Homo sapiens: one gene and its partners. The protein of the gene in region 3 interacts with the protein of the main gene of each other region in a pairwise test. Each region holds a gene or a part of one and is shown on either strand. Other genes may lie near its edges.

Evidence for each region.
Region 1: the proteins of PLEKHB2 (region 3) and UBAP2 interact in binary tests that used the Homo sapiens proteins (3 or more experiments, as listed by UniProt).
Region 2: the proteins of PLEKHB2 (region 3) and CDA interact in binary tests that used the Homo sapiens proteins (3 or more experiments, as listed by UniProt).
Region 4: the proteins of PLEKHB2 (region 3) and FOXD4L3 interact in binary tests that used the Homo sapiens proteins (3 or more experiments, as listed by UniProt).

What each region holds. Positions count from the first base shown.
Region 1 is NC_000009.12:34,045,120-34,053,361, forward strand, and holds the start of UBAP2 (ubiquitin-associated protein 2), read right to left. Parts: upstream 3,769-8,242; 5' UTR 3,706-3,768; intron 1-3,705. UniProt on the Homo sapiens protein: Recruits the ubiquitination machinery to RNA polymerase II for polyubiquitination, removal and degradation, when the transcription-coupled nucleotide excision repair (TC-NER) machinery fails to resolve DNA damage. May promote the degradation of ANXA2.
Region 2 is NC_000001.11:20,613,097-20,619,403, forward strand, and holds the end of CDA (cytidine deaminase), read left to right. Parts: intron 1-745; coding exon 746-803; intron 804-5,355; coding exon 5,356-5,472; 3' UTR 5,473-5,807; downstream 5,808-6,307. UniProt on the Homo sapiens protein: This enzyme scavenges exogenous and endogenous cytidine and 2'-deoxycytidine for UMP synthesis.
Region 3 is NC_000002.12:131,107,814-131,116,132, reverse strand, and holds part of PLEKHB2 (pleckstrin homology domain-containing family B member 2), read right to left. Parts: intron 1-8,319. UniProt on the Homo sapiens protein: Involved in retrograde transport of recycling endosomes.
Region 4 is NC_000009.12:68,297,310-68,306,185, reverse strand, and holds FOXD4L3 (forkhead box protein D4-like 3), read right to left. Parts: upstream 3,320-8,876; 5' UTR 3,235-3,319; coding exon 1,981-3,234; 3' UTR 1,102-1,980; downstream 1-1,101. Other genes in the region: ZNG1C (zinc-regulated GTPase metalloprotein activator 1C), read right to left, coding at 6,599-6,705, 7,093-7,222, 8,369-8,434, 8,538-8,606.

The DNA of each region.
Region 1 (8,242 bases), on a different chromosome or scaffold from region 3:
GGCGGATCACGAGGTTAGGAGATCAAGACCATCTGGCTAACACTGTGAAACCCCGTCTCTAATAAAAATACAAAAAATTAGCCGGGCGTGGCGGCAGGCGCCAGTAGTCCCAGGTACTCGGGAGGCTGAGGCAGGAAAATGGCATGAACCCAGAAGGCGGAGCTTGAAGTGAGCCGAGATTGCACCACTGCACTCCAATTTGGGCAACAGTGAGACTGTCTTCAAAAAAAAAAAAGGGTAGAAAAAAATAAAAATTAAAAAAAAAATTTTTTTTTGAGACGGAGTCTTGCTCCATCCAGGCTGGATGAAGTCCAATGGCACATGGCTCACAGCAACCTCCACCTCCCAGGTTCAAGCAATTCTACCGCCTCAGCCTCTGGAGCAGCTGGGACTACAGGCACGCGCCACCACACCAGGCTCATTTTTGTATTTTTAGTAGAGACGGGGTTTCACCATGTTGGTTAGGTTAGTCTCGAACTCCCGACCTCGTGACCCGCCCGCCTCCGCCTCCCAAAGTGCTGGGATTACAGACATGAGCCACAGTGCCCAGTCACAAAAGAAAATTTTTAAGGAGCATCTTTGAGAAACTTAAAAAATGTCAAGTAAACTCAGCAGGAAATATCAGCATAAGTGGTTTACATTAAAATTGTAAAAACTAATCTGATAAATTTGATTCTTTGAGTTAGTAAAAAAAGGATCCTATTCCTAAATACTTGATAGTTGGGGCAAAATTACTTCAAAATCTACCACAAAGATTACATGGTGATATTCCCTACATGTCCTCCCTCTCTTTGCCTTCCTTCAGGTTGTATCTCCACTCTTTGGAAAAAACGGCTGCTTCTAAAATCTATCAGAGATCTACTAACTTACCAGTCAACACCATGGGTACCATAACACTTAGCTTTTAAGAACGCTCCATTTACTCAAAATAACAACTAAGAGCTCCATTTACTCAAAATAACAACTAAGAATGAACGGGTATTTGCTGACATACAGGTTTCTCACAAGGAAAAATAAAGACAGATGTGCTTAAGGGCAGAGAACTTTACAATCTGTAAATGCCTGCAGACTGCTTCTTTAGAGCAGGCATTAACCCTTGCTAATATACTTAACCACCCCCACCCCCCAACCCCACAAAGTGTCTTATTAACAAAGGAAATCTTAACAATAAATCATCATTTAAAAAAAAAAAAAAGAGGACTGGGAAATCAACAATTCAAAGCTAACATTTTAGAAGTAAAGGCTTCATGCCGGGCGGGGTGGCTCACGCCTGCAATCCCAGCACTTTGGGAGGCAGGCGGATCACGGGGTCAGGAGATCAAGACCATCCCGGCTAACACAGTGAAACCCCATCTCTACTGAAAAATACAAAAAATTAGCCGGGCGTGGTGGTGGGTGCCTGTAGTGCCAGCTACTCGGGAGGCTGAGCCAGGAGAATGGCGTGAACCCGGGAGGCGGAGCTTGCAGTGAGCCGAGATCAGGCCACTGCACTCCAGCCTGGGCGACAGAACAAGACTCCATCTCAAAAAAAAAAAAAAAAAAAAAAAAAAAAAGAAGGCTTCACTTCAGACCACTCCAAACCTTCAAGAAAGGTTTGTACTTTCTACACATATTTTATACTTAAGAGGGTAGATACCGGGACCAGTTCCCATCACAATACAAGTACATATTGAAATAAACCTATTAGTCTACATGTTCTCACACCATCACACCATTTCTCCCCATACAATAAAAGTCACTCAGGCTAATACTAAGAGAGACACTCCTGGTGATCACTACATAGACTGCACTAGTAACCAGGAAAGGGAAGCAGAGGTGTTATTGTTGTTCCAATATAGTTCTAAAGGCAACTCCATGTGACTACTGCTGATCCAGCCCACATTTAAAGGGAGGACAGAGGAAACCAGAGCAGCAGGAAACAGGCAAGAGAGGCAATTACCACAACCCTTTCCCATGGCCTCATTCTCTCCCATGCCACCACTTTCGGGCATATTTCAATCACAACAAAAACCTTCCTTCTCTGAAAGGTTTCATAATTATTGAGGGTGAGAGGCAACAGGGAAGCAAATGGGGGAAATCAGCGCTGTGGGAAAATCTCTCGTCACACGTATCAACTAGCCATAAGTAGGAAAATCAGGAGTATGCTGGCAGCAAGCAAAAGGGCAGTTTGGGAAACTAATCACTTCTGCCTAATGATAAGAGAAGCCTTCAAAGCAATGGAAGGACAACCCTAGCGAAGGGGCTCCACAGGTGAGTGTATTGAAGGAAACTATCATCTCCAGGGAGTGGAATACATTCCCTTTCCTGAGGTAAAAGGGGAACACACCAATGTAGGATACGGGAGAGCTTAGGTATCATGTTCAACTTCCTTCCACCTTTCACAAACTGGCACTAAAACGGATACACAATTCACAGTGAAAAGTGAGGAATGCAATAACTAGTCGCATACCCCTTGTTGAAAAAAGTGCTGTCACAACGGAAGAGGAATATAAGAACTGGGTTCACCCAAGAAATTATATGCCCTTCAAATAAAAGATAATCTTTGGATACCTTATGGAGACCTGAAAAAACCCTCAACTAGCTGAGCACCGTGGTGCACACTGTAATCCCAGATACTCAGGAGGCTGAGGTGAAAGAATCGCTTAAACCCAGGAGCTGGAGGCCAGCCTGGGCAACATATGGAGACCATATCTCTAAAATTAATAGTAATTTTTTAAAATCTCTCAACTGTTAGGATACACTGGTGCTGTAGAAAGACAATAAGCCTAAATACTGGCAAACCATATACCTTCCTTGAATGTGAGGTAAAAACAATATCCAATAGAAGTGGTAGTAAATGACTGGATTACATCAAACAGGAAATAACAGTAATAATGATGGGATCAACCCCTAAAGCGAGCAAGCATTAGAGACCAGAGTGGTGACAGTTGAGATGCGTGGGCAACTAATTAGACTAAAAACTCAGGGGAAAATGTGGAAAAGCCGAGTGGGAAAGTGATTCAGAGGCAAACAACTGAGTTGTAATGCACCAATGAAAGAATAACATTTTGAGTATGTATTATTAACAGAGAGAGCTTTGCCGTTTACAAAGCGCTCAAAAACCTACATTAAATAATGAACTGTGATATAACCAGACTACAGGAACGGCGGGTGTGGAGGAAAACTGAGTCCCAATTGAGACCAATGCCCTACAGAATTGAAAAGAAGTAGAACTGAACTGTGACTCCGGGTAAGCCAGGAAAGGTTAGAGAGCGCATAAGTTGGGGCTATAACAGGGCCAGTCCCAAGACTAGCTACGGGCGTGAAAGCGGAAAGGTGATGAGATGGGACCGACAGCGTGGCGGGGAAGCTCCAGTCTACTGGCAGGCACCGAGGTGGGAGAGAAAACCACACCCTCCAGGGCAGAAACCCGAAAGGGGGGAGGGGAGGCACCCCTGGGGCTGGGTGGGGCCCAGCCGACCTGGACGGGGGAAAGTAGGAAGAAGCACAGGGCAACGTGAGGGGAAGAGGAAGGAGGGAGCCCGGGCCTGGACGTAGAGGGACCGTGGACCTGGCGAGTGAAGCTCGGCCCGGTCCTCACGGGTGGGCGCCGGGGCAGTCTGCAGGCGGTGGGGTTTCAGACGAGCTGAACCCAGAATTAGAAAGCACACGCTGCAGCGCTCAGGGCCCTGGAAGAGGGAAGGAGAGGGAGAGGATGGCAATTACCGCTGCTGCTCTCGGAGGACCCAAGACCCGCTGCCGCCGCCGCCGCTCGTTACCTGCCAATGTGCCTCTTACAAAGCGGCGGCGGCGGCACAGGCTGCCCAACCCGTCACGTGACCTCGCGTCACGGGCGAAGGAGGAGCCACAACACGTCGCTCGTGCGCGGCTTCAGAGTCAGCCTAGGCGGCGCGCGGCCTCTTCCAGCCACCACCTCCACCCCAACCCCGCGAAGCCAACCGCGTGGAGGTGGGGACCACAGAAAGGAACAAATAAGGGAGACTTGATAATATGTATTGTACTCGGAGTCATCAGGAGAGTATTACCCACCGCATACAAGGTGCCCACAACTGCAGCTCGTCGTCGCGCCGTGATGACCTCACAAAGCACCACAGGTTACTCCCCTGTGGCCGCCCTGTGCTCATCACGTGATGTGGTCCAACCACTCAGGGCAAGCCTGGCCTCCCAAATGTTGCACGAGGGGACCACGACTCCCAACATGCTGCACAGCCAAGGCGACCCCTACCGCAGCCTTTCTCCAGCGGGCTTCTAGACGAACCCCCTAGAGACCTTAGAGCCGAGGGAAGGCCGGGACGGAAAGCGGACTAAGCTGGCTTGAAGGACTAATACCATTGGATGCCGCCCGCCATGTGGCGGAGCGTGGTGCCTGCTGGGAGGTGTAGTCCTGGCGGGGGGTGGGGTTCCGCTCCCACGTTCCTGGGCTCGCTCTGCGCCCTGCCCCCTGCGCGGGAAAACGCCAACGGCTAGCAGCGAGAGCCTCGGCAAGGCGGAAGGTGCGCCCACTTTTAGTCTTTTTCAGTGCGGTTTTACTTTTGCCCTCCCAAGCCCCTTCTGGGTGAAAAGACTAGAATCTACTGAACGCCTACTCCAAGTCAGCCGTTTATTTCTGTTATATCATATAATCAACTCCTTGAGTCCAGGATTTTCCCTATTTAAGGATTTAAAAAAAGAACCTTAGAGTTGTTTGTTGACCGAAGAGACCCAGGTTTTCTGTCTTTAGAAAATTAATGACCTCCTCTCAATAGGATCTGACCTGTTGTCAACTCCAAGAATTACGAATAAATAAGATGATGGTTTATAATTGTAGCATGGTGTTTTAAAGTATTTTCCATTTACTGGCCTGTTTGGATGTGAGGGCGTTCTGGCTATCTTGTCACCCCATAGATCGCCAGGGCTGATTCGGCTGATCTGGCTGTCTAGGCGGGTGGCCCCTTCCTCCCGCACCTCTCCATGTGCGTCCCTCCCGAAGCTGCATATTCGGTCGAAAAGGAGGAGCATCCCCCATAGAAGAGGACAAGTCAAGGATATAGGAGTAGCTGCACGCCCGTGTTAACAAGCTCTCAAGGTCCTCTAAACAAGCTCTCAAGGTCTACTTACTGGCCTGTTTTATCCCAAGCTAGTTACATACAAGGACTTTGCAGTCCCGGCATGCCTTATCTCAATTGGAGCTTTCCTCTGTAATAACACTTCACCGGCTTGTGAAAATTAAATGAGATTATGTAAAATGCCTGCTTGACACATAATAAACCCTCAGTAAGTATCAGTAATCATTTTCACACTCTACCCATCGGGCCCAAAAGGTCTAAGTAAGGTAGAAAGGGGAAATTAGCTTATACTGAACTTTGTACAGGGCACTATGCTAATTACTAATTTGCTAGTTATTAAGTAAAACAATTGACATCTTAAACAGCCCTATCTAGTTCAAATAAAGCCTTTGTTATTCATCTGAATTAAAGAATGCTGCCGGGCGTGGTGGCTCACACCTGTAATCTCAGCACTTTGGGAGCCGGAGGAGGGCGGATCACAAGATACGGAGTTTGAGACCAGCCTGACCAACACGGTGAAACCCCGTCTCTGTTAAAAATACAAAAAAATGTCCGGGCGCGGTGGCTCACGCCTGTAATCCCAACACTTTGGGAGGCCAAGGCGGGCCGATCACGAGGTCAGGAGATCGAGACCATCCTGGCTAACACGGTGAAACCCAGTCTCTACTAAAAATACAAAAAAATTAGCCGGGCGTGGTGGCGGGCGCCTGTAGTCCCAGCTACTCGGGAGGCTGAGGCAGGAGAATGGCGTGCGGAGTTTGCAGTGGGTCGAGATCGCGCCACTGCACTCCAGCCTGAGCGACAGAGCAAGACTCCGTCTCAAAAAAAAAAAAAAAAAATAGCCTGGCGTGGTGGCACACGCCTGTAATCCCAGCTACTCAGGAGGCTGAGGTAGGAGAATCACTTGAACACAGGAGGTGGAGGTTGCAGTGAGCCAAGATAGCACCACTGCACTCCAGGCTGTTCGACAGAGCAAGACTCTGTCTCAAACAAAAAAAAAAACAAAGAATGCTTAAACTGTGCCTTTAACAAACAGAACTGGGCCGGGCGTGATGGCTCACGCATGTAATCCCAGCACTTTGGGAGGCCAAGGTGGGTGGATCACCTGAGGTCAGGAGTTTGTGACCAGCCTGGCCAACATGGTGAAACCCTGTCTTTACTAAAAAAATACAAAAAATTAGCCGGGCGTGGTGGCGGGCGCCTGTAATCCCAGCTACTTGGGAAGCTGAGGCAGGAGAATCACTTGAACCCAGGAGGCAGAGGTTGTCGTGATCCAAAATTGTGCCACTGCACTCCAGCCTGGGAGGCAGAGTGAGACTCCATCTCAAAAAAAAAAAAACAAAAAAAAAACAGAACTTATCATCATCACCATTCATGTGTAGGTGTATCTTATCTCACCTCTTTTGACAATGAGCTAGGATTGTGTCTTGTCTGTTCGTCTTCCTCCTGTTTGCCCTGCTGCTTTATAGAAATGTGTGGGAGCATCAGAGATAAAAACCACCCTTGAGAGTCAAAGACTTAATGGACAGATCAGGCCAGGCATGGTGGCTCATGCCTGTAATCCCAACACTTTGGGAGGCCAAGGCGGGCGGATCACCTGAGGTCCAGAGTTCAAGACCAGCCTGGCCAACATGGTGAAACCCCGTCTCTACTAAAAATACAAAAATTAGCCAGGCATGGTGGCGGGTGCCTGTCATCCCAGCTACCCGGGAGGCTGAGGCAGGAGAATCACTTGAACCTGGAAGGCGGAGGTTGCAGTAAGCTGAGATCATGCCATTGCCCTCCAGCCTGGGTGACAAGCGCAAAAGTCCGCCTCAAAAAGAAAAAAAATGACAGATCAGGAGAAAAGGATTCTGAAAGGAATATACAAACTTGATAACAGTGGCTGGCTCTGAGGGGTGGGAAAGAGGTTTGTGATTGGGGTTGCTGGCCCAAAGGGACTGCAGTCTAACGTTTTCGCTTTTTACTTGGAGAAGGCACTGGTATATAACTTACGTAATTATAAGATTAACTTGGCCCAGCGCGGTGGCCAAGCACTTTGGGAGGCCAAGGTAGGCGGATCACAAGGTCAAGAGATTGAGACCATCCTGGCCAACATGGTGAAACCCCGTCTCTACTAAAAATACAAAAACTAGCTAGGTGTGGTGGTGCACCTGTGGTGCGCACCTGTAGTCCCAGCTACTCCAGAGGCTGAGGCAGGGGAATCACCTGAACCCGGGAGTCGGAGGTTGCAGTGAGCCAAGATCGAGCCAGTGCACTCCAGCCTGGCAACAGAGCAAGATTCCTCTCAAAAAAAAAAAAAGAAGATTAACTTTATGAGGTCGGGCGCAGTGGCTCACATCCGTAATCCCAGCACTTTGTGAGGCCGAGGCAGGTGGATCACTTGAAGTCGGGAGTTCAAGACCAGCCTGACCAACATGGAGAAGGCCTGTCTCTACTAAAAACCCAAAATTAGCCTGGCATGGTAGTGTATGCCTGTAATCCTAGCTACTCGGGAGGCTGAGGCAGGAGAATTGCTTGAACCTGGGAGGCGGAGGTTGCAGTGAGCTGAGATCGTACCATTGCACTCCAGCCTGAGCAACAAGAGCAAAATTCTGTCTCAAAAAAAAGGAAAAAAAAAGATTAGCTTTATGAAAAGGAAGACCAGAGACCACGTGTTAGCTCTGTGACCCTGTACAAGCTGTGTCACTTCTCCAGGCCTCAATTTCTTGTTAAATTCATTTTCAAAAACATCTGCCTTTTCTGTGTCAGGGACACTGTGCTGGTTACTTTTATTACATTATCATTTATTAAGCAAGAAGTCCTACCAAGAACCTAGGATCAGAGAAAATAAGAACATCAAAGCCCTAAAACCTCACTGATTACTGTTATTGGGACCTGGATGCAACAGAACTAGCCTTTCCCTCCCCGTCCCTCACACAAAGGATATCATTCACCTTATCCACCCAGCTTGACTCTGAGACATTGACTCTGAAACTAAAACTAATTTCACATCCTGTGACTGCAAAGGACATCCCCATCTTTTTTTTTTTTTTTTTTTTTGAGACAGAGTCTCACTCTGTCGCCCATGCTGGAGTGCAGTGGCGCGATCTCGGCTCGCGGCAAGCTCCGCCTCCCGGATTCACGCCTTTCTCCTGCCTCCGCCTCCCAAGTAGCTGGGACTACAGGCTCCCGCCACCATGCTCGGCTAATTGTTT
Region 2 (6,307 bases), on a different chromosome or scaffold from region 3:
ACTCTACACTTCCTCCAAGGACCAGGACACATGCCTCCTCCTCCATAAAATCTTCCTTCTCAGTCCACAGGCAGGGATGAGCTCCCTCATACTGTGTGTTCCTTCTGCAATTTTTTTTTTTTTTGAGAAGGATTTTCATTCTTGTTGCCCAGGCTGGGGTGCTATGGCACGGTCTTGGCTCACTGCAACCTTTGCCTCCCGGATTCAAGCGATTCTTCTGCCTCAGCCTCCTGAGTAGCTGGGAGCTACAGGCGCCCACCACCAAGCCTGGGTAATTTTTGTATTTTTAGTAAAGACGGTGTTTTACCACGTTGGCCAGGCTGGTCTCGAACTCCTGCCCTCAGGTGATCCACCCACCTCGGCCTCCCAAAGTGCTGGGATTACAGGCGTGAGCTACCAAGCCCAGCTGCATTTTGTTTAACATGATAACTCAGCTGGTTTTTTACATAACAGAGACAAATTCTCTTTGACCTTTGTATTCCCGGGTGTGGGTGATGGTAAGTGCTCAGTAAACGTTTATGGATGGCACTAATGAAAGTCCTGCCCATGGCCCTGCCTTGTGGCAGTGTGGAAAGCCACCACGTGGCCTTCTCAGCCTTCAGGACACAGTGGATCTGTGAATCAGGAACTGCCTGATGGGGTATGACCCAAATCAGGAACAGACCGAGTCTCAGGGCCTGAATCTTAGCAATTGTCCTCAGTCCTTGGGAGAGACTAATTTGAGTTTGATTCTTTGCTTCCCCAGTGACATGCAAGATGATTTTATCTCTCCATGTGGGGCCTGCAGGCAAGTCATGAGAGAGGTAAGCAGCTTCTCTTGCTGTCTGGAATGCAAATATCTTCCCTGTCGCAGGCTATGGGAGCCACGCCAAGTTGCAGGCATGGCAGGCATGGCAGGCGTGGAGACACAGCTACTGTCCTGTTTGCTTGGTTGGCTGACTTCTAAGGCCTCCCTACGCTTGCATGAGTCACTGGAAATTATTCCTTCATTTAACAAATACTTACCGAGTGAGTGTCTGCTTTGTGCCAGGCCCTGAGGTAGCTCTGGGGAGGCACAGGGAAAAGATGGGCCAGGCCCTGCCCTCACAGAGCTCATAGGCTAATGCAGGAGACAGATGATAAACAAGGAGCAAAATAAATAAACAAACAGTGGCGTTTCTGAGTCAAGAGGGCTATAGAGGAAAACAAAATGCAGAAAAAAAAAAGGAGTCCAGTGACAAACGGGCAAACAGGGGACACTGCAGATTGGGGTCAGCAAACAACAGCCCTTGGGCCAAATCCAGCCTGCTGCTTGTATTTGTAAATAAAGTTTTATGGGTATACAGCCATGGCCATTCATTCACCTATTGTCCATAGCCACTTTGCCCTGACACAGCAGAGGTGAGCCATTACGACAAAGGCCACATGGCCTCTAAACCTAAGATATTTACTGTCTGGTCCTTGACAGAAAAAGGTTTGCCAACCCCTGCTTTAGATATCCAGGAAGGCCCTCTTTTTGAGCATGACATTTGAGCAGAAATATAAATAATGAGGAAAAAAATGAGACAGACAAAGGTCAAAAAAGGAGATTCAGAACCAGCAAGTTCAGACCCTTGGTGAATTTGAGAAGAGGCAAGAAGGCCACGAGGGCTAGAGAGCTAGGGCCTGGTAGGTGGAAGGAAAGCAATGGGATTGAAGTCAGAGGGGTGGGCAGAGGCCAGATCACATGGGGCCTGGCCATGGAACGAAGGGTACATTTTATTCCAAGAATAAAGGAAACTGAAGTGTACACTTTTTTTTTTTTGAGACGGAGTCTCACTCTGTCACCCAGGCTGGAGTGCAGTGGTAGAGTCTCAGCTCACTGCAACCTCCGCCTCCTGGGTTCAAGCAATTCTCCTGCCTCAGCCTCCCGAGTAGCTGGGACTACAGGCGCCAGCTACCATGCCCGGCTAATTTTTGTATTTTTAGTAGAGACTGGGTTTCACCATGTTGGCCAGGATGGTCTTGAACTCCTGACCTTGTTATCTGCCCACCTCGGCCTCCCAAAGTGCTGGGATTACAGGCGTGAGCCACCGCGCCCAGCCTGGAGTGTACACTTAAACATGGTTAAAATGGCAAATCTTACATTATATATATTTTATCACATTATATACATTGGGAAAAAAGGGAATAAAGGTAAGCCATTGGATATTTTCAAGAAGAAACTTGAAGGACTTTTTATAAAAGTCCTCTTGATGGAAGGCTGCAATTTCTTCAACTCTAAAAACAAAACGGTAAGCCAGGTATGGTGGCTCAGCCTGTAATCCCAGCAATTAGGGAGGCAGAGGCAGGAGGATCGCTTGGGTCCAGGAGTTCGAGACCTGCCTGGGCAACATAGCGAGACCCTGTTCTCCACAAAAAAAAAAAAAAAGGAATAAAACAAAACAAAAAAATGAAAACGAAGGGATAGTTTAGATCATGGGTTCTTAATCCAGGCTCAGGGGAAGGTTTTCATGTTTATATGTACGTTTGGGGAAAGGGGAATGTCAGTAACTATTGTGGATTCTCAAAGAGATCTGTGTCCTCTAGAGTCCCAAAAGATTAGAGAATCCCACAGGCCCTGAGCTCCAGCATAATATCAAGAGCCCCTCGAAATACGGCATCTTGTGGGCATGATGGCTTACACCTGTAAGCCCTGCACTTTGGGAGACTGAGGCAGGAGGATCACCTTAGCCCAGGAATTCAAAACCAGCCTGGGCCACATAGTAAAACCCGGTCCCTTCAAACAATTTAAAAATTAGCAAGGCATAGTGTGCACGCCTGTGGTCCTAGCTGCTCCAGAGGCTGAGGTAGGAGGATCACTAGAGCCTAGGAGGTCAAGGCTGCAGTGAGCTGTGATCAAGCCACTGCACTCCTGCCTGGGTGACAGAGCGAGATCCGGTCTCAAAAATAAATACATACCTACAGCATCTTGTTTAATCCCCTCCCCAAGACTGAGTGAAATGCATGTCGTTATTCCCATTTCCCAGTGACCACTCTGAGGCTCAGAGGAGTAAAATGACTTACTGAAGGGCCCCCTGCCAGGCGGTGACATATGGGTATCCATGGCCCATCAGGCTGACTCTGAAGCCCGTGCTCCTCACGGCTGCCTCTCTGTCTTTGTGGTTCTGTAAGTTGGACAAAATTATTTTCAACCATGGAGGAAACATAATGGTACTTTGGCATGTGGATGCTGCTTGTACCGTGGGAGTTTCTGCTTTTGGAGTTGTGTTTTGGGAGAAAGGGGGTTGTTTTAGCTTTGTTTTTGTGCCGTGGGGTTTCAAAGCATCTGGGGATGCAGACACTTCCATCTTCCTCCTGCTTCCTGCCAGGAGTGCAAATCAGACACATTTCCCAAATCCAAAAACATACCACCGGGAAAGCAGTGAATTTACACGGTGGAATTTGTCTCACTTGAGAGGGGCAGAAATAGCTGCCCTGCACGGTGGAAATGTCGAAGGTCATATAAGGAAGCCACAACAGGGCGCCAAGTCCCTGGCTCCCAAGGCCCCGACGTGGTCCAATTGCTCAGTGCTGTTTTCTCCAAACAGATTGGATGTTGGCAAACGAGAGAAGGCAAATGAAAAAGCTGAAGGAGGCAGGGGGGAAACTGAAACCAAATGCAAATGATAAGAGATGAGGCGTTGGGGCCAGGGACCTGACACGTAAACTCGCCCTCGGCTCAACTTTTGTCTGTACCTACCCTTAGGCACAGCCTGTCAAGCAGAAAAATTTCCTTCCTTAAAACATTAATTCTAAAAAAGCCAGAAGATTGAGTGTGCCCGGGAATAACTTGGTGATTCAGAGAGAAGTGTGGAAGAACAGGAGGCTGCAGACCTGAGCAGTCACTGGCTACCAACATAATCAATAAGAATGGCATCTATTAATTGAACACCTACTATGTGCATAGAGATGCTTTACATGAATCATCTCTGCATCTCAGAATACCTGGCCAGAAAGAGCTTAGGTCTGTTGACCCCACCTCCAGGGCTCTTGTCATGACACCGCTGCTGATTAACCTCTTGCCTACCATCCTGCATTCTCCCATCCCTAAAACCATTCCATGGACCAAGACACTGAGTGAGCCCCAGAAAGTTATCATTTTCCCAAGGTCACACAGCAAACAAACAGTGCTCCTCATAGTATAGGAGAAAGATCAAGAGACAAATTTTTCTTTGCTGACTTTACTCTGCTAAGCCTCAGTTTCCTCATCAGTAAAATGGGCATCATGATAGCACCTACCTCACAGGGTAGATTATGAAACCACGCATGTGCAGTATCTATGTGGTGTGGTTTGGCTGTGTCCCCACTCAAATCTCATCTTGAATTGTAGCTCCCATAATTCCCACATGTCATGGGAGGGACCTGGTGGGAGGCAATTGAATCATGGGGGCGGGTCTTTCCCACGCTGTTCTCGTGATAGTGAATAAGTCTCATGAGATCTGATGGTTTTATAAATGGGGGTTCCCTCACACAAGTCCTCTCTTGCCTGTTGCCAGGTAAGACATCCCTTTGCTCTTCCTTCCTCTTCCGCCATGGTTGTGAGGCTTCCCCAGCCATGTGGAACTGTGAGTCCATTAAACCTCCTTTTTTATTTTATTTTATTTTTTTTTTTTTTTGAGACCGAGTCTCGCTCTATGGCCAAGGCTGGACTGCAGTGGTGTGATCTTGGCTCACTGCAACCTCTGCCTCCCGGGTTCCAGAGATTCTCCTGCCTCAAGCCTTCTGAGTAGCTGGGATTACATGTGCTTGCCACCACGCCTGGCTAATTTTTGTATTTTTAGGAGAGATGAAGTTTCACCATGTTGGCCAGGCTCATCTCGAACTCCTGACCTCAGGAGATCCGCCTGCCTCGGCCTCCCAAAAGTGCTGGGAGTACAGGCGTGCGCCACAACACCCGGCCTAAACCTCTTTTCTTTATAAATTACCCGGTCTCAAGTATGTCTTTATTAGCAGCTTGAGAACAGACTAATACACTGAGTATATGTAGCAGGCTTGCAGCTTCTCCTGGTGTGAGGTGTAAAGGGGATACTGAAGGGAAGCGGGTGTTAGTTGTCATTTGTCATAGCAGAAGGAGGTTCCAGGGGTTAGCTGTTGCTCTTATAAAGCCCTGGGTGAGTCTTGAATGGTGCCTGTTCACGATGTACCATGCACTGTTCAGTTTCACAGCATTCTTTCGTTTCCTCCTCCCTGCAGCACTATGATCCAGGTACAATTATGGTCATTCCCCTTTTACAGATGAGAAAATCAAGGTAAAGAGAGGAACATTAGACAGTGGCAGAGTCAGACTCAGACCCAGTCCGTCTCAGCCCCCTCAGCCACGCTGTGTCTCTCACGCCAGCTTTGCCTCTTTTCCAGTTTGGCACCAACTGGCCCGTGTACATGACCAAGCCGGATGGTACGTATATTGTCATGACGGTCCAGGAGCTGCTGCCCTCCTCCTTTGGGCCTGAGGACCTGCAGAAGACCCAGTGACAGCCAGAGAATGCCCACTGCCTGTAACAGCCACCTGGAGAACTTCATAAAGATGTCTCACAGCCCTGGGGACACCTGCCCAGTGGGCCCCAGCCCTACAGGGACTGGGCAAAGATGATGTTTCCAGATTACACTCCAGCCTGAGTCAGCACCCCTCCTAGCAACCTGCCTTGGGACTTAGAACACCGCCGCCCCCTGCCCCACCTTTCCTTTCCTTCCTGTGGGCCCTCTTTCAAAGTCCAGCCTAGTCTGGACTGCTTCCCCATCAGCCTTCCCAAGGTTCTATCCTGTTCCGAGCAACTTTTCTAATTATAAACATCACAGAACATCCTGGATCAAAGCGTGTGTCTTGCTCTGTCTCTATCCTTGCTTGCAGCTCTTAGGAGGGACAGCATGATTTGTCTTTATAGGAAGAGCTGGACTCTTTCTGTTCGGAGAGGAAATGGGTACCTTGGAACCATGGACCTTATGGTGTGGAGAGCTGAGGTTTTAGGCAACTTGCCCCAGCGTTCTCTAAACGGGCAGCTCCCCTGGGCTGGACCTAACTGCCAATAACCATCCTAGAGTGTGTTTTTGTCTCATCATAGACCTGAGCACCAGGAGACTCCAGAGTATAAAGGGTCAAGCACGGTTTGTCTAGACAGTGTAACAAAGGGTTTTCTCAGTAGCTACTGTATGTCAGGTAATTTGTGTGCATCATTTTAAGTTTAACATGCTCCACAGTTCTGTGAGGAGGGTGTGGAGATGCCCCCTTTTCACAGATGAGAGCACTGGGCTTTGGAGAAGTTGAATACCCTGCTCTAGGACAATGGCAAACCTCAGAACAGAATCCAGG
Region 3 (8,319 bases):
GGGGAAATCAGATTATGAGACAGAAAAGAACTTAAACTGGAATTAGCAACAGAAACTCTTCACTTTTTAAAAGAGTAATTCCTCTGCTGACTCAAGTAGCTTCTTATCTTATGTCATCCTGTCTACCTCTCCTCATTCTGTGGAACAATCTCATGTACCTCCCAGAGCAGATTTTTATCTCTACCACTAGTCTCCTCTAAAACAAGCCAGTACTCTTTGAAAATGAGCTAGTTACAGTTTAGGGGCAGGATATCTTATTATCAAAAAGCACAGATGCTTTCAAGAGTGCCTTCAGAAAGCATCAAGAAGCCACTCAGCTGAAGAAAGAGAATCTAATGGCTAAATTGTGACACAAGTGTAAAATTCAAAGTAAAAATTACAGTCTATTACAACCAACTAAGGCTGAAAGGTACCCTGGGTATAAGATGATTAAAATGAGATATATTACAGTAGAATGTGTTAAAGAAAAGACATACCTTCTGGAGGGCGCAGTAGCTCACGCCTGTAATCCCGGCATTTTGGGAGACTGAGGCAGGTGGATCACGAGATCAAGAGATCGAGACCATCCTGGCCAATATGGTGAAACCCCGTCTCTACTAAAAATATTAAAAATTAGCTGGGCATGGTGGCGCATGCCTGTAGTCCCAGCTACTCGGGAGGCTGAGGCAGAAGAATCACTTGATCCCGGGAGGCGGAGACTGCAGTGAGTCAAGATCATGCCACTGCACTCTAGCCTGGCAAAAGAGCCAGACTCCATCTCAAAAAAAAAAAAAAAAAAAAAAAAAAAAAAAGACATACTTTCTGATAATGGTTTGGCTTTATTCCTACCCAAATCTCACCTTGAATTGTAATAATCCCCACATGTCAACAGTGAGGCCAGGTGGAGATAACTGAATCATGGGGACAGTTTCCCCCATACTGTTCTCATGGTAGTGAATAAGTCTCACAAGATCTGACAGTTTTATAAATGGGAGTTCCCCGCACAAGTTCTCTTGCCTGCCACCATGTAAGACATGACTTTGTTCCTCATTTGCCTTCCACCATGATTGTGAGAACTCCCCAGCCATGTGGAACTGTGAGTCAACTAAACCTCCTTCCTTTATAAATCACCCAGTCTTGGGTATATCTTTATTAGCAGCGTGAGAACAGACTAATACAGTAAACTGGTACCAGTACAGCGGAATGCTACTGAAAAGATAACTGAAAATGTGGAAGCAACTTTGGAAACAGGTAAAAGGCAGAGGTTGGAACAGTTTGGAGGGCTCAGAAGAAGACAGAAAGATGTGGGAAAGTTTGGAACTTCCTAGAGACTTGCTGAGTGGCTTTGACCAAAATGCTGATAGTGATATGGACAATAAGGTCCAGGCTGCACTGGTCTCAGATGGAGATGAGGAACTAGTTGGGAACTGGAGTAAAGGTCACTATTGTTATGTAAAGAGACTGGTGGTATTTTGTCCCTGTCCTAGAGATCTGTGGAAGTTTGAACTTGAGAGAGATGATTTAGGGTATCTAGTAAAAGAAATTTCTAAGCAGCAAAGCCTTCAAGAAGAAGCAGAGCATAAAAGTTTGGAAAATTTGCCAACTGATGATGCAACAGAAAAGAAAAACCCATTTTCTGGGGAGAAATTCAAGCCTGCTGCAGAAATTTGCATAAGTAACAAGAAGTCCAATGTTAATCACCAAGACAATGGGCAAAATGTCTCCAGGGCAGGGATGGGCCATGGCTCACGCCTGTAATCCCAGCACTTTGGGAGGCTGAGGAGGGTGGATCACGAGGTCAGGAGATGGAGACCATCCTGGCTAACACGATGAAACCCCGTCTCTACTAAAAATACAAAAATTAGCCGGGCGTGGGGGCGGGCGCCTGTAGTCCCAGCTACTCGGGAGGCTGAGGCAGGAGAATGGTGCGAACCCAGGAGGCGGAGCTTGCAGTGAGCTGAGATCACGCCACTGCACTCCAGCCTGGGCCACTCCCTCCTGAAATGCAACTAAAATGAGAGTTAAGGAGAAAACAAGGCATAAATCCACAGAGAACAGCAGCAGACAAAAGCAGACGAGACACAACATTTTGAAAGTTCTAAGACAAACAGACAAGTGTCAACTAACATAAAATATGGCCACCTCTACTTTGTTATGTGCTAACAGAAGCCAAAACACAGCAAGCCAACTCCTGCCACATAAAAACAGACTCAGAAATTGGGGGTAAGAGAGAATTCTAGAGGTGGGGAGAAATCAGAAGAATTAATGGAAAGTCTTCAAAGGGGTCACTAGGCACCCTACCCAAGCAGACAGGGACCCTCCCTGATCCTGAAGATGATGCCTCTGGAGACTGGGCGTGGCCACACTACACACAGCTTAAAGTCGCAGGCCACACTTAGAAGAATATAGTCCGTGAAAGTCAAATTCTCCATCTTCTTCCTTACTTCTCAGACTCTAGCTCAGAGCAAAGGCATAGTCCCAAGAGGAAAGGCTCACTGATACTGACAACTGGGTGTTCTGTAATGAAAAAGCCAAACTTTGCCTAACACCCTCCAGAGAAGCTCACCAAGAGACAGACTTGAAGCAAACACACAGACTTCCAATCAGCTTTTCAGTACCTCTCTTAAATAGGAATACAGAGCAAGTATCATCAGTCTGAGTAGAAAAAAATACTGTTTTTCCTCTGCTCTCACGTCACAACAATCAACATAGAAGACTTCTGTGACCAAATGTGTGAGGGTTTCTCCCCACATACCAAGCAAGAAATCAATTATGCAGCAGGCCCATGCACAGTGTTGCGCATCTGTAATCCCAACATTTTAGGAGGAGAAGGTCAGGGGACCACTTGAGCTCAGGAGTTTGAGACTAGCCTAGGCAACATGGTGAAACCTCATCCATACAAAAATCAGCGGGGCATGGTGGCACACACCTGTAGTCCCAGCTACTGGGGGGCTGAGGTAAGAGGACCACTTGAGCCTGGGATGGGGAGGTTGCAGTGAGCCGTGATCACACCACTACATTCCAACCTGGGCAGGAGTGAGACCCGGTCTCAAAAAAAAAAAAAAATTCTTCAGCGAACACCAACTAGGTGTCCTGCAATTCAACTGTCACACTATCTACCTGGAGATAGCATCAGATCCCACAGGTTGAGGGCTCAGTCCCACAAGACTGCCCACCCTTCAGACACCAGCCACAAGTCAGGGCCTCTGGAACATGTGATCAACTAGCTTTAAGTCAGTGAGAAAGAAAAGTAGCTCAGAGCAATCTGAAGAACATAAAGCCGGCAAAATTTAGAAAATGGGTCTTTAGTTACCACAGCCCCAGCCACGCTCAGGGTTAACTGTTTAAAGGGACTTGGGGTTTTTTTAATCTTCCCTTTCCTGTAGTTTCCAGACAAGCTGATAAATTACCAAGACTGTTACTACAAGTTACACAATGTGACCCTCAATCATTTTCTTCATGTTCCTGGAATGTGTGGTACAAAGAACAATATACAGCCAACCAATAGTTTATGTTCAACTTAGAAACTGCCCCTATTTTTGCCCTTTAAAATCCCACTTCTAACTGTTGCTACTCAAAGCATATATTCAGAGCAACTTGAATCTATGCTTCCCAGGTTGCTGTCCTCAAATCTGGCCTAAATAAACTCTCTATTTATAGTAATTTTTGCTTTAGTTTCTTTCTTTAGGTCTATTAGAATTCCCCCATCTCCCTGTGTTTGATTAATTTGCTAGAGCAGCTCACAAAATTCAGGTAAACAATGACTTATATTTACCAGTTTATTATAAAGGGTATTACAAAGGACACAGATGAAGAGATGTATAGGGCAAGGTGTTAGTGTTCAGGCCTCTCCAGGCACACCACCCTCCCTCCAGGAACCTCCAGGTGTTCGGCTATTCTGGAGGCTCCCCAAACCCAATCCTTTTGGGTTTTTATGGAGGCCTCATTACATTAGCATGATTGATTAAACCAACAGCCACTGGTGATCAACATCACCTTGAACCCCTCTCTCCTTCCTGGAAGGTTGGGGGGCAGACATGAAAGTTCCAACCCTCTAAAGTCGCATAGGTGTTTCAGATGACCAGCTCCCATCCTGAAGGGAGTCTGCAGGCCATCAATCAATCATTAGCATACAAAAAGACATCATTTTGGAGATTTTTAAGGATTGTATTAAATAGGAGTTGTAAGGCAGGAAATGAGGTCAAAGACAAAATAAACATTTCACAGTACCACAATCAGACACTGGAGAAAAATCTAGACCATAAAAGATAGAGATTAAAGAAAATAAAATTTTCAAGAAAAAAACCTCAAGAATCAGAGACAATGCTGGGTACAAAAGAAAACTTTAAAAATATTACTTTACAGCTGGCCACAGTGGCTCACGCCTATAATCCCAACACTTTAGGAGGCCGAGGAGAGTAGATCACTTGAGGTCAGGAGTTCGAGACCAGCCTGGCCAACATGGTGAAACCCCGTCTCTACTAAAAATACAAAAATTAGTTGGGCGTGGTGGCAGGCTCCTGTAGTCCCAGCTACTCAGGAGGCTGAGGCAGGAGAATGGCGTGAACCCGGGAGGCGGAGCTTGCAGTGAGCCGAGATAGTGCCACTGCACTCCAGCCTGGGTGACTGGAGTGAGACTCCATCTCAAAAAAAAAAAAAACAAGAATAAAAAGAAATATTCAGAGCTCTCAATTAAAAATAATAACCAAAATTAAAAATTCAATACAAGAGTTGGAAAGATCAAGATGGAAGAAATCTCTCTGAAATGAAGAGCTAAAAAAAAAAAAAAAAAAGACCAAGAGATGGAAAAAAATTAGAGGATGAGCCTGGAATATAAAATATTCTGCTGGCTGGGCACAGTGGCTCATACCTGTTAATCACAGCACTTTGGGAGGCTGAGGTGGGTAGATCACTTGGGGTCAGGAGTTCAAGACGAGCCTGGCCAGTATGGTGAAACCCCATCTCTACTAAAAATACAAAAATTAGCCAGGCATGGTGGCACGCACTTGTAGTCCCAGCTACTGAGCAGGCTGAGGCAGGAGAATCACTTGAACCCGGGAGACGGAGGTTGCAGTGAGCTGAGATCCCACCACTGCATTCCAGCCTGGGCATCACAGCGAGACTCCGTCTCAAAAAAAAAAATTCTGCTTATAGGAGAATTTCATAAATAAACCACAGAGAAAAGAGCAGAGAAATAATACTATAAAACCATTTCCTGCAACAGGATAACACATTTCTAGATTCAAAAGATCCAATGACTGTCCAGCATGATGAATTTTAAAAGATTCTCCATAGGTAGGATGACTGAAATTTCATAACATCAAGGACAAAGAAGAGAACCTAAAAACTTCCCAAAGAAAAAAGCATATATAAAGGATCAACAATCAGCAAGACACAGGACATCTAGAGCAATACCTTCAAAATGCTAACGGAAAATTATTTCCAAGCCAGAATTCCACACCCAGTCAAATCATTAATCAAGGCCAGGCATGGTGGCTCTTGAGCATAATCCCAACACTTTGGGAAGCCAAGGTGGGAGAATCGCTTCAGCCCAGGAGTTTGAGACCAACCCAGCAACACAGTGAGACATTCTCAACAAAAAAATAAGAAGTTAGCTGCACATAGTGGTGCACGCCTGTAGTCCCACCTACTCGGGAGACTGAGGTAGGAAGATCGCTTGAGCCCAGAAGGTAGAAGCACAGTAAGCCATGAATGATCATGTCACTGCACTCCAGCCTGGGCGACAGAGTAGGATTCGGTCTTCAACTGGCAGGGGAGGAAATTCCCAGAAAGGCAGCTGTGCAGAAGGACTGGGGAGGAAAAAAAAAAAAAAAAACAGTCCAGACTGGAGCAGGACCGAGTACTACAGGGGAGGAAAAAAAGTAACTGACAAATTTCCTACAAGTTTTTGACTCACTGGTGGATTGAAGAGTTTTACAAGGCAGCAAAAGTCTTCTATGATCAAAAGTCAAAAGATTACATGTAAATCAATAGCAATTTTACCATATCCACAAAGATAAAATACTATTTTTTTTTTTTGAGACGGAGTCTCACTCTGTCACCCAGGCTGGAGGGCAGTGGCGCGATCTCAGCTCTCTGCAACCTCCACCTCCCAGGTTCATGCCATTCTCCTGCCTCAGCCTCCCGAATAGCTGGGACTACAGGCAACCGCCACCACACCCAGGTAATTTTTTTGTATTTTTAGTAGAGACAGGGTTTCACCGTGTCAGCCAGGATGGTCTCGATCTCCTGACCTCATGATCCACTTGCCTTGGCATCCCAAAGTGCTGGAATTACAGGTGTGAGCCACCACACCCAGCCAAAATACTATTTTAAAAAGTGCCAAAAAAAGGTGAAAATAGTTGTCTATAGTTTAAAAAGGGGGTGGACAAGAGATTGATATATTTTTTTTTATTCTAAGGTTTAAAGCACTATTTGGTTGTTTTTTTTGTTTGTTTGTTTTGAGACAGAGTTTCGCTCTTGTTGCCCAGGCTGGAGTATAGTGGCGCGATCTTGGCTCACTGCACCCATCGCCTTCCAGGTTCAAGCGATTCTCCTGCCTCAGCCTCCCAAGTAGCTGGGATTACAGGCGCCCACCACCACGCACAGCTGATTTTTGTACTTTTAGTACAGACGGGATTTTACCACGTTGGTCAGGCTGGTCTCAAACTCCTGACCTCAGGGGATCCACCCGCCTCAGCCTCCAAAAGTGCTGGCCTCCAAAAGCTTGAGCCACCACGCTCAGCCTATTTGGTCTTTCAATCTATGTACATGTATTATTTTGATAAATGTAAACATGTAAACAATAACCTGAATTATCTTCAACTATACCAAAACAAAAAAACCAACCTAAATTAATCTACCTATTTGAACCTTCCAACAGTGCTCTGCTTTCGTTTTTAAATTGGGGAGAGAAATTTAGAGAGTATCTTTAGAAACCAAAAATCATGAAGTATGATTTTGATCACATTTTGTTTTGTTTTTGTAGAGACGAGGTTTCACTATGTTGCCCAAGCTGGTCTCGAACTCCTGGGCTCAAGGGATTCTTCCATCTCAGCCTCCCAAAGTTCTGGGATTACAGGTATGAGCCACTGCAGTCAGCCTATCATATGCTTTTGAAATTTCACAGAACCCAGTGTTTGGGTATAAGCTTTAGAGTTAAAAGACCTATGTTCAGATCCTGACTCAATCGGACAAGTCACGTTTCCAAGCCTGATCTATAAAACGAAAATTCCCACCACCTACTTGACAGGATGTTCGGAAAATTGGGTGAAATAATATGTAAGTAGTTGGCATGGTGCCTCACAGTTACTAGAACTCGATAAATGGTAGCTGCTTTGACAGCAATTATTACTATTTACTACTATTATTACTATTACTTATTTTCCCCCTTACCAAAATTTGCCGAAAATATTCTAGAACAAGCTTGTCCAACTCATGGCCCCAGCCCAGGTCAGCTTTGAATGCAGCCCAACACAAATTTGTAAACTTTCTTAAAACGTTATGAGATTTTTTTGCAATTTTATTTTTTAGTGCATCAGCTATCATTAGGGTTAGTGTATTTTATGTATGGCCTTCTTCCAATGTGGCCCAAGAAAGTCTAAAGATTGGACAGCCCTGTTCTAAGAACAAGGACATCAAGCTGCTTCTCAAATGGCTCAGAAGACTTCTGTTTGATTGCCTTAGCATGCTGAATTTCACACCACTCCATAACTTAATTCAACATTTCACTATTTATATCCTGGAGCAAAACTGAATGCATAAACTAAAACTCATCAGATAAACACTAAGCCCTAGCTGTTGGTCTCTAGAGAATAAAACACCAGCAAACTAGCTGCAAAAGAACATTATTTTTATGCCAATAAAACCTATGCAAAGCTTTAAAATGTAAGCCATATTCAACAATTTAAATTATTTTAAATTTGAATTTGTATCTCTTTGAAAGCATTGAATCGAAACAGACAACAGATGGACAAAAAATACTGCCTTTGGAATCTGACAGTTCTAAGCCTGAAGCCTACTTTGCCTTCTACTCACTAGTATGACCTTCAGCAAAATTCTAAACCTCTCTAAGCCTCAGTTTTCTTACCTGTATGACCAGGCACAACCAATTACGTCATGGGGTTACTGTGACAATTAAAGGAGGTATGTCCAAACAGCCCTGTAGTAGATGGTCCAAAAGTGAGAATTGGCCAGGCGCGTTGGCTCACGCCTATAATCCCAACACTTTGGGAGGCCAAGGCAGGCGGATCACCTGAGGTCAGGAGTTCGAGACCAGCCTGACCAACATAGTGAAACCCCATCTCTATTAAAAATACAAAAAATTAGCCGAGCATGGTG
Region 4 (8,876 bases), on a different chromosome or scaffold from region 3:
TCTGACCCTCAGTCACCCATGTTCGTAGCTGTGTTGGTCTGCCCTCGGGCAAGAGAAGGAAGATAATTGGGAGGGTGCCAAGAAAGCCTAGAGAAAGTCCCTTCTGGGTTCAGCGGCCGGCTGTAGCCGCTCTCCCAGGACGTTTGTTGACAATAAATGAATGAAGGTCGGCCTGGAGACGTTTTCGCACAACGGACAGAGGGGAGTTGGAATGTAAACCAGCGAGAACCTGGCATGAAATAGGACCCCTCTATTCTCAGTTTGTTTCCAAACTCTTAGACTGCCCCAGCCCTGCCGGATTTGCTAAAAGTGGTCTATTTTGGACGCTGGTGGTGCTATGGGGCTGACGGCTACCTGTGCAAAGAAGAGGGAAGAATTGGAAGCTGGGGTCTGGGCAGCTACCAAAGGTGGGGCTTGGGAACTTTTCAGAACGTCCTCAGAACCGCAGGAGCCAAGAGGAAATCTCCCGTAGGGGATCTCAGGTAGGGCGTGCCAAGAAATTCCAAGAGACGGGATGGAGAAGAGAAGCCGGAGAAAAATCGGCCAATTAGACTCCTGTAAAAATGTGTGTCTCCATGTTTGTCCTCCCTCCTGAAATAAGAAATTCATAGCTGGGGGTGGGGAGTAGATGGGGGCTGGGGGAAAAACTTTCTCACATTCACGGAGCAGCTTCCCTCAAAGCGGCACGGAATCGGGAACCCCACTCAGGACAGGGGAAAACGGCCAAGTTCCTAGAAATTTGTTTTCTTTGTGGGGAGCAATTCATGATGGGCGTTCTTGTCTGGTTTCCCCCCACTCCGTCCCCTGACGCCGAGTAACACTTAAACCTTTCTAGTTGCAAAGTCTTTTCAGAGTTGTTTTTTTTTTTAAGAAATAAGTTTTGAAAATTCTAGTGCTTAAAATATATATATATATATATATATATAATTTATAGCCTTTTATTTTCTCTGAGTACATGTTGGCCACTACATTCCAAATTTATCTCAAATGGTTTTCCAGCTTGTTGAGGGGTGATGAAAAATAAATGGAGAATATATTTACATGCCCTCCTATTCTTTTCTTTTAGAAGTCTCATAAATAGTAAATTTCCTATTTTAAAAGCCAGGACATTTTCAACCTCAAATATTTGGAATTTTTAAAGGCCATATTAAAATGGATTACTTCTGCTATCTATAATAAATATGAATTGTGAAAATAAATTGTTTGAGGGAAAATAACGTAGGTTTTAAAAAGTTCCATTTAGAAAGGGAAGAATGAGATGTAATAGAAAATAAACGATGTAGTGTAGTGACTTAGCATTTTATTTCGTCTATATAACTAGGCTTAATTTTAACACCTTAATTTTAACATTAAAGATGGCACGTCAGACACACAGATAAGAAATCAATGTTCTGAAATTAATATCCTACTTACATTAAACATCCCTATCAGGAAGACACAGAGAGTAGAAGCATTTTGCACTAGACTTAGGAATAATACTTCCAGCTCCAAGGAAGTGAAGAAGGGGGAACATGTTTGGCATCGGAGGCTGTGTTTTTGTTTGCTTGCTTGTTTTTCTTTTAATGCCAGAACAAAATACCCCACTCACGTTCATAGTACCCCAGGAAATGCGCAAATCGGGACAGCCATAGAAGCCACAACCGAAGGCAAGAAAAGATGACTTGACGCCCTGCGAAGGTTACGTTCAGGTGGTTTTTAGAGGAACGTAATCCAGCTGTTTCTTTCTAACCATTTTGCAGCGAACAGAAGTTCGTGTTTGCTCTCCAGCGGGATTCAGATGCACACGCCCAGTATGGGCCGCGCAAGGTGGAGTGAGCAGCTGCGGGTCGCTCCCCACTCCCACCTGGCTCTAGGAGGGCCCTGCGGAGTTGGCCAGGGAACTGGGCGTGGGCGATACTAAAAAAACTGGTGAGGTCCCCTCTCCGCCCAAAGGGGCAGCCAGCGATGTCAGCCTAGAGCCCTCTGCCACTGCCTGATACCTCAGCAGGGCCGACGAGGCCGACAGGTGCCCGCCCAGCACCGCGCCCTTGGTGGGAGCGCAGCCGTTGGCGCAGTCCTCCTCCTGATGCTGCTGCTATTGCTGCAAAATTGTCCGAGCAGCGGCGGCGGCGGACACTTGCAGCAAAGGGGCAGCGGTCTGGGGATGCAACAGGCTTGATGGTCGCTGGAGCAGGTGGCAGTAGCTCCACGCGGTCGGGGACAAATTCTGCGCAGCCCCTGTACCCGCTCCCCTGACCCCTTGCATAATACTCTCAATGCTGAAAGAGATGCATCCGCCTCCCGGTGGCGACGCCAGACCCTTGCCCTCCTCCCAAGGCTGAGGACCAAGTGAGGGCTGCAGCACGGGAAGGGTGCCGGGGTCGCCAGGGCCGCGCCTTCTGCTTTCTTCGGTGCCCCGGCATAGACGGGGGCCGAGAGCAGTAGGTAGCGAAGAGGATGCGGGTGCAGCAGAGCGTAAGGGCGTCTCCCGGGGGCGGTGTTGGGGTAGGCCCCCGGGACTGGCTGCGGCGGGGCAGGGGCCCCAAGCAGAGGGCCTGGGCGGGGGTTGTGCAGGGCGGCGTGTGCAGCAGGTAGAGGGAAGGGGTGGGGCAGGTGGGCTCCCGGGGTCAGTTGGTGGCGCTTGAAACGCTTCCTACGCCGGAGAAAGCTGCCATTGTCGAACATGTCTTGGGAGGCGGGGTCCAGGCTCCAGTAGTTGCCCTTGCCTGGGTGGCCCGGCTCGCGGGGGATCTTAACGAAGCAGTCGTTCAGCGAGAGGTTGTGGCGGATGCTGTTCTGCCAGGCGGGGAACTTGCGGCGGTAGTAGGGGAAGCGGCCACTAATGAAGGCGCAGATGCCGCTGAGCGTGAGGCGCTTGTGCGGGTTTTGCAGGATGGCCATGGTGATGAGCGCGATGTACGAGTAGGGGGGCTTTGCCGGCTGCCGGGCATCTTCAGAGGCCGCCGCAGACCTTGGCGGTGCCCTGAACTTGGTGCCAAACTCTGAGGGGTCGCTCGGGCCGCCGCCGCCCTCGATGTGCTCTCGGGGAAGCGCAACCCCGCCCCACCGGGCCACCTGCAGCCCCGGCTGGAGCGACTGCTCTAGGAACTGCTGGCTCGCCGCCTCCTCCTCGTCTTCCACCTCGTCTTCATCTTCCTCCTCTCCCAGGACATCGATTTTACCGTCTTCCCCATCGGAGTCCCGGAGGCTGCGCTGCGGTGTGGAGCGAAGGCGCTCAGCTCTTGGCAGGTTCATGGAGGAGCAGGTGCTTCAGTCGCAGGGGATGTGGCGGCCGATCACCTGGCCTGGGGCGGGCTGAGCTGGAAGCCTGGGATGAATGTTGCAAGAAGCAGGAACGCTAGTGGTTACCCTTTGGGATGTTTTCGTCTGCTTGTTTCTACTCCTTTGCAACAACGTCCGGCAAAGATGCCTTTGCCTTTTATAAAAGCTTCTTCAAGACCATGTGTGGTGGACTCCCCCCTTTATAACCCTTCTTCCCCTACCTCGGAGCGGTGCCACTTCCTCCTAACGTAGTCCAGGGATGATGGTCTTCTGGGCAAACACCCGTCCGGAGAAAAGCCCAGCCCCCTCCTCCTCGCACCCACCTGCCACCAAGGAAGATGCTCTACTCATCCGGTGCAGCCAGACAGTTGGCAAGCCTTTGCACGGGTTCTGTTAAGGCGCATTTAAACCCGCGCAAATAAAAGCGAGGTAGGAAAGTATGATACTCAACATTCTATGACCACCTCAACATGCAGCCTTCCCGCCTGGAGAAAAGAAATGGTGGGGCAGGAGGCTGAAATGTACACGGTTGTTTGTAAAGGAATGTGTAACCGTAAAAGTATGTTTTTGTGTTTCACAGCTGGTAATCACCCATTTTCATTGGTAGAGTCTGTCCTTACCCAGAATGGTGAGCTGAATTATATTTAAGGTTCTGACAATATTCCCAGGCTTCAGGGGGGTGTTGCTTTGCTCCTTCTACCTTCCTTCCCACCTCCTCAAGATGCTCTCCCTGACTCAAATTTTCAGAAAAGGCTCAAATGTCCCAGCACTAAATTGTGTAAGTTTACTCAGGGAAGGCAGGAGAGCTCACACGGAGTCCTCTGTCCCCTTGTAGCAATGGTTCTCCAATTTCTTTGAATATTTAACCACAGAAATACATTTTATATCACAATCTCACACATACAGACATAATACATAACTAAGATGGGTTTCACGAAACAATATACTTACACTATAGTGATCACTGATATTTCCTTTTAAAAAAAAATGGCCATAACCAACTAAATTGATTTCACACATACCAGTATGGGCCCAGTTTGAAAAATCCTGTTCTTACAAAGTGGCCCCACATACAAGAAATGCACCCACTCTATAAGGGCTTCTCTCTCTCCCTTTCCTCCTTCCTTTCTTCATCCTTTATAACCAATTCATTTTTAGAGACAGGGTCTATGTTGCGCAGGCTGGCTTTGAATTCCTGGGCTCAAGTGATCCTCCCGCCTCAGCCTCCTGAGTAGGTGGGACTACAGGCGTGCCACTATGCCTGGCTCTGGCTCTTCATTCTTTTTTTTTTTTTTTTTTTTTTTTTTTTTTTTGAGACGGAGTCGCTCTGTCGCCCAGGCTGGAGTGCAGTGGGGCGATCTCAGCTCACTGCAAGCTCCGCCTCCTGGGTTCACGCCATTCTCCTGCCTCAGCCTCCCAAGTAGATGGGACTACAGGCGCTCGCCACCACGCCTGGCTAATTTTTTGTATTTTTAGTAGAGACGGGGTTTCACCGTGTTAGCCAGGATGGTCTCGATGTCCTGACCTCATGATCCGCTTGCCTCAGCCTCCCAAAGTGCTGGGATTACCGGCGTGAGCCGCCATGCCCAGCCTCTTCATTCTTTCAGAAATGTCAACATTAAGTGCTTTTACTGTAATAAAACTTGGGACTTCAATGAGGCAAGAAGGGGCTGCAGTGTTGCCTTTAAATCAGTGGGTCCTCATTCACTATCTGCACTGGGGAGGGGCAATATGACAGCACAACTGTTCATCTCACTCGCTCCACATCCTTAGAAATAACACGATTTTTAGATTGGCTTCATGAAAATTAGCTCAGAGACTAAAGTAGCACTACAGAGGAATAAAAAAAATTTGTTATATAAATAAGAATCTTATTAAAATACTAAGTAAGATACTATGCCACGGTATATATTCATAATTTAAAACCCACCTACTTGGGAAAACTTTGAGGTGCCATCTAATAAAAATGCAGCATGAAAGAATATTATGCCCTTGATAGTCACATAGTGTCTATAATTATGACAATGAATGTTCAGTGAGAAATCAAACGCCAACTGCAAGGGCAAAATATAATAAAAAATAGCTTAAAGTAGCTAGTGCCTTCAGGATAAAATCTGGAAAAGAGCTTTCTTGCTGATCTTTTTTTGAAACTTTGCTGCTCCTGAAGTTTTTACCCTTTAAGGCTCCTCAGTTTATATGAAGCTTGGAGGACAAATAACAGACAGGTTTGAGCCTAACAGATTTGTTTGAATCCCAAATTTACCAATGACTGCTTGTGTGACCTACTAAACTAAGCTCCAGGAGGGCCAGGCCAGGTGTCTTATTCAACCACATAATCCCAGACACCTCCTCCCCAGCGCCCCCCAGCATGTGAGGCAAATTTCCTCCATCAGCATAGGAATCGGATGACCTGGGAAAGGGAGTATTGTTAGTTTTCCTAGAGCCAGCTTCAATAGGGATTGGGGTTATTTAAAAATACAGGAGAAAAATAAGGAGGCGCTCAAAAACAAAACACAAAACCCACATTGATGGGGGTATGTCAAAGGGGGGAACAGGAGATAACGGAAAGAGTTCCCAATGGTCAAAGCTGGGATAATTTGAGCAACAAAATAAAGTAGTATTAAATTGTAACCCAAAGTATAAAATATTCATGTGTCCACACTGATAAACATAAATGATCGAACTAATAAAGCGAAAGGGACAACTGTCCCTCGCAGAAGAATTTCAATTAATTATGTAGACCACTCCCAAGAAAGTACACTACAACTCCCCATTCCTTTAGTGTGGGCTGTGCATAGTGATTTCCTTCCAAAGAGCACAGTATGAAATGGGGGAAAAGAGTAACTTTACAATGGAGAAACCTGACAAACACTCCTTCAGCCAGGTGATCAGGTCGTCAACATCAACATCAATAACAGTCATAACCTTTTATTTCATGTCATAAAATGGTGACACTTACTTGTGTTAAAAAAATTTAATAACAATGTAATCATTATATCTCTGCAATCAGCTGAAGTTCTAAGAAAAAATGACAATGTTGAAAGTTGTATCATCATTATTATAAACTTTCATGTTCAGTATATGTAAACTCCAAAGCCAATTTCAAAAGATATTTTTGTGAAATACCATTCTTTAAAAAAAAGGATATTATATATAATTGTATGAATGTTAAATGTTTTACAGTACTGATTTGCTACATTTTATGTATGCTGTAAAACAAATACCATTTTAAAGTATATTGGAATTCGTAACTAAAGTAATAAATAAATGCTTGAAATATACCCAGTAGAAACTTATTTTTATTATCCAATCCTTTTGATAAGAAATGCCTCTAGTGTTATGTACAAACTTGATCTTCTTTGAAATGTGTTGTCCACTGCTTTTCTGTTTCTGTCACAGTAGCTATAAACAGCTGTTTAAGGATATCCTTATCTAAATTTCTGCCTGCAAACAAAACAAAATATGACGTGATTACATTATGCTTATTAAAATGACACAGTTCACCTATCAATTCCAGTTCATTAAATGCTTTATGGTGTTTAAAAATTTACAAAAAGAATAGTAATTGAGTGATTCCATCTTTAACTTTCCAGGTCAGTACATCAAAGTCACATTGGTCCTTGGATTAACCACTTTTCTAAAATTGAAGAAGAACAAAAGTCCTAACAAGCTTTTACGAACGTTGTAATGTGACAAAGATGAAACATTGACCACAAGCTTATTTAGTTTTAAAAGAGGACCTGAATGGTTAATCTGTTTAAGTGGCACATGATATCCCTTTCAAATATATTTTTCACTTTGTTTCAAAACTGTGAATCCTTTGAGACTTACCAATGAGGACCAATCGATTTGTTCTCTCAGTGTCATCCTTCCAGCTCACTGGAGTCTCCTCCAGATCATAGAGCTCATGGACACCCTGGACAATCACTTGTTGTGATTTGTCTTTGATTGACACCAATCCCTGCTCAAAGGAGAATTGACTGAACATTAATCAGCCTCAGTTCAAACTTAAAAGCAGAAATAGAGCATCAATGTTAATGGATTAATTACTGATATTCACTTAAAAAATACAAACTCTTAAGCTGAGAAAATTACTTAATTCCAATTATTTGTGAATTACAAGAAGTTTCTTAATGTTTTTAATTTTCAAAAAAGGTTTCTGTGTATTGATTTTTTTTTGAACAATCCCCTTTTCTAATGATAAAGTTAATACATATATTAGGATGGTTTTTCAGTGTTATTTATCACAACCAAAACCTGAAACAAAATGATGAAATATGTATCATATCCTATTGATTAAAGATTTTATATAATGTTTCACAGTTTTAGTGGGAAAAGTTGAGAAGTTAAAGGAGTTTTGTTATATTAAATAATTTGTTTTAGAAATGGGTTGCAATCAATGAACAATGTTGAAATAAAGAAAAACTATTATATTTATCTGGATATGAGCTCAATTTATCTGAATATGAGCTCATTGTGTATTGATTTGCAGAAATGAGAAACGAATTATCTGATAAACTGGCTCCTATGGGGATGAAATTAATTTATTTGAAATAATATTCTTAATTTACCAAAAACTTTGTGCACACTTGTGAACACACAAGAGTAGACACTCAACTGACTGGTTAAGCATACACTTTAGAATCACTGCTTCCTAGAAGAAATACCTTTCATGACTTAAATACCCAAATATCAAGTAATGTGAGTGGGTTTCTAAATACAGAACAAGAATTCTTCTAGTCCTTTGTAACTTTGTTTAGAGTACAACAAATGTTTAGTGTCTGCTAAATGCATCAGGAAGCATAATGTTCAGCAGAAGTGAGATTTGCAACATTATTTCTCTGTACTTGGGAACAGAGAGCAGAAGGTAACATTTCAAAGCACACAGGTTTGTTCTAGCTGCAACCCTAAAGAAAGTTGTGCAAATAAATCAAGCCTTATGCAGTGATTTCCAAAGCTCCTTTTCAGTCATGAAAATAATAAAGAAAAATGAAAGTAGACAAAGATGATTTGTACTAAAACCAGTGTTTCTGTTTAAAACCAAATATAGTTTTTATAACAGCCAAGAAAAGGACTTTGTCCAAAAGTCTGCAACAGTAAACTGTACCTTCAGCCTTATGACCTCCATGCAGTGATTGTCCTTGTTTCTCACATTCTTTTCCCACAGAAGATTCTGTATCAAGTGACATATTTTAATAAGACCAACCATCGCTAATAGCAACAACTATGTAACAAAACCATTGATAAATCATTAATCAGTTAAAAATTGCATTCACCTGAATAAACATATTAAGATGTTCTTCCTTTGCATTTCCTGGTACTTCAAATGTGATTGTAACAATACTCTGTAAATCAAGGGAAATAATAATAATTCTTTATAGTAATATCAATGTTTTTTAAATCACAAATTTTAAGATGAAAGGAACATATTCATGGAATTTTACATTGCTTAAACCATATATATTACGTATTATACTTTCCTCAGCATATGTGCTGTTTTTTTGGAATTAGCAACTCCATTTCCTACATTCTGCACAGGTACCAATGGATTTAGTATTTACACAAACTACTACCTTGTATTTTAAAAAACTCACTCAGAAACCCTGATGAAAGGG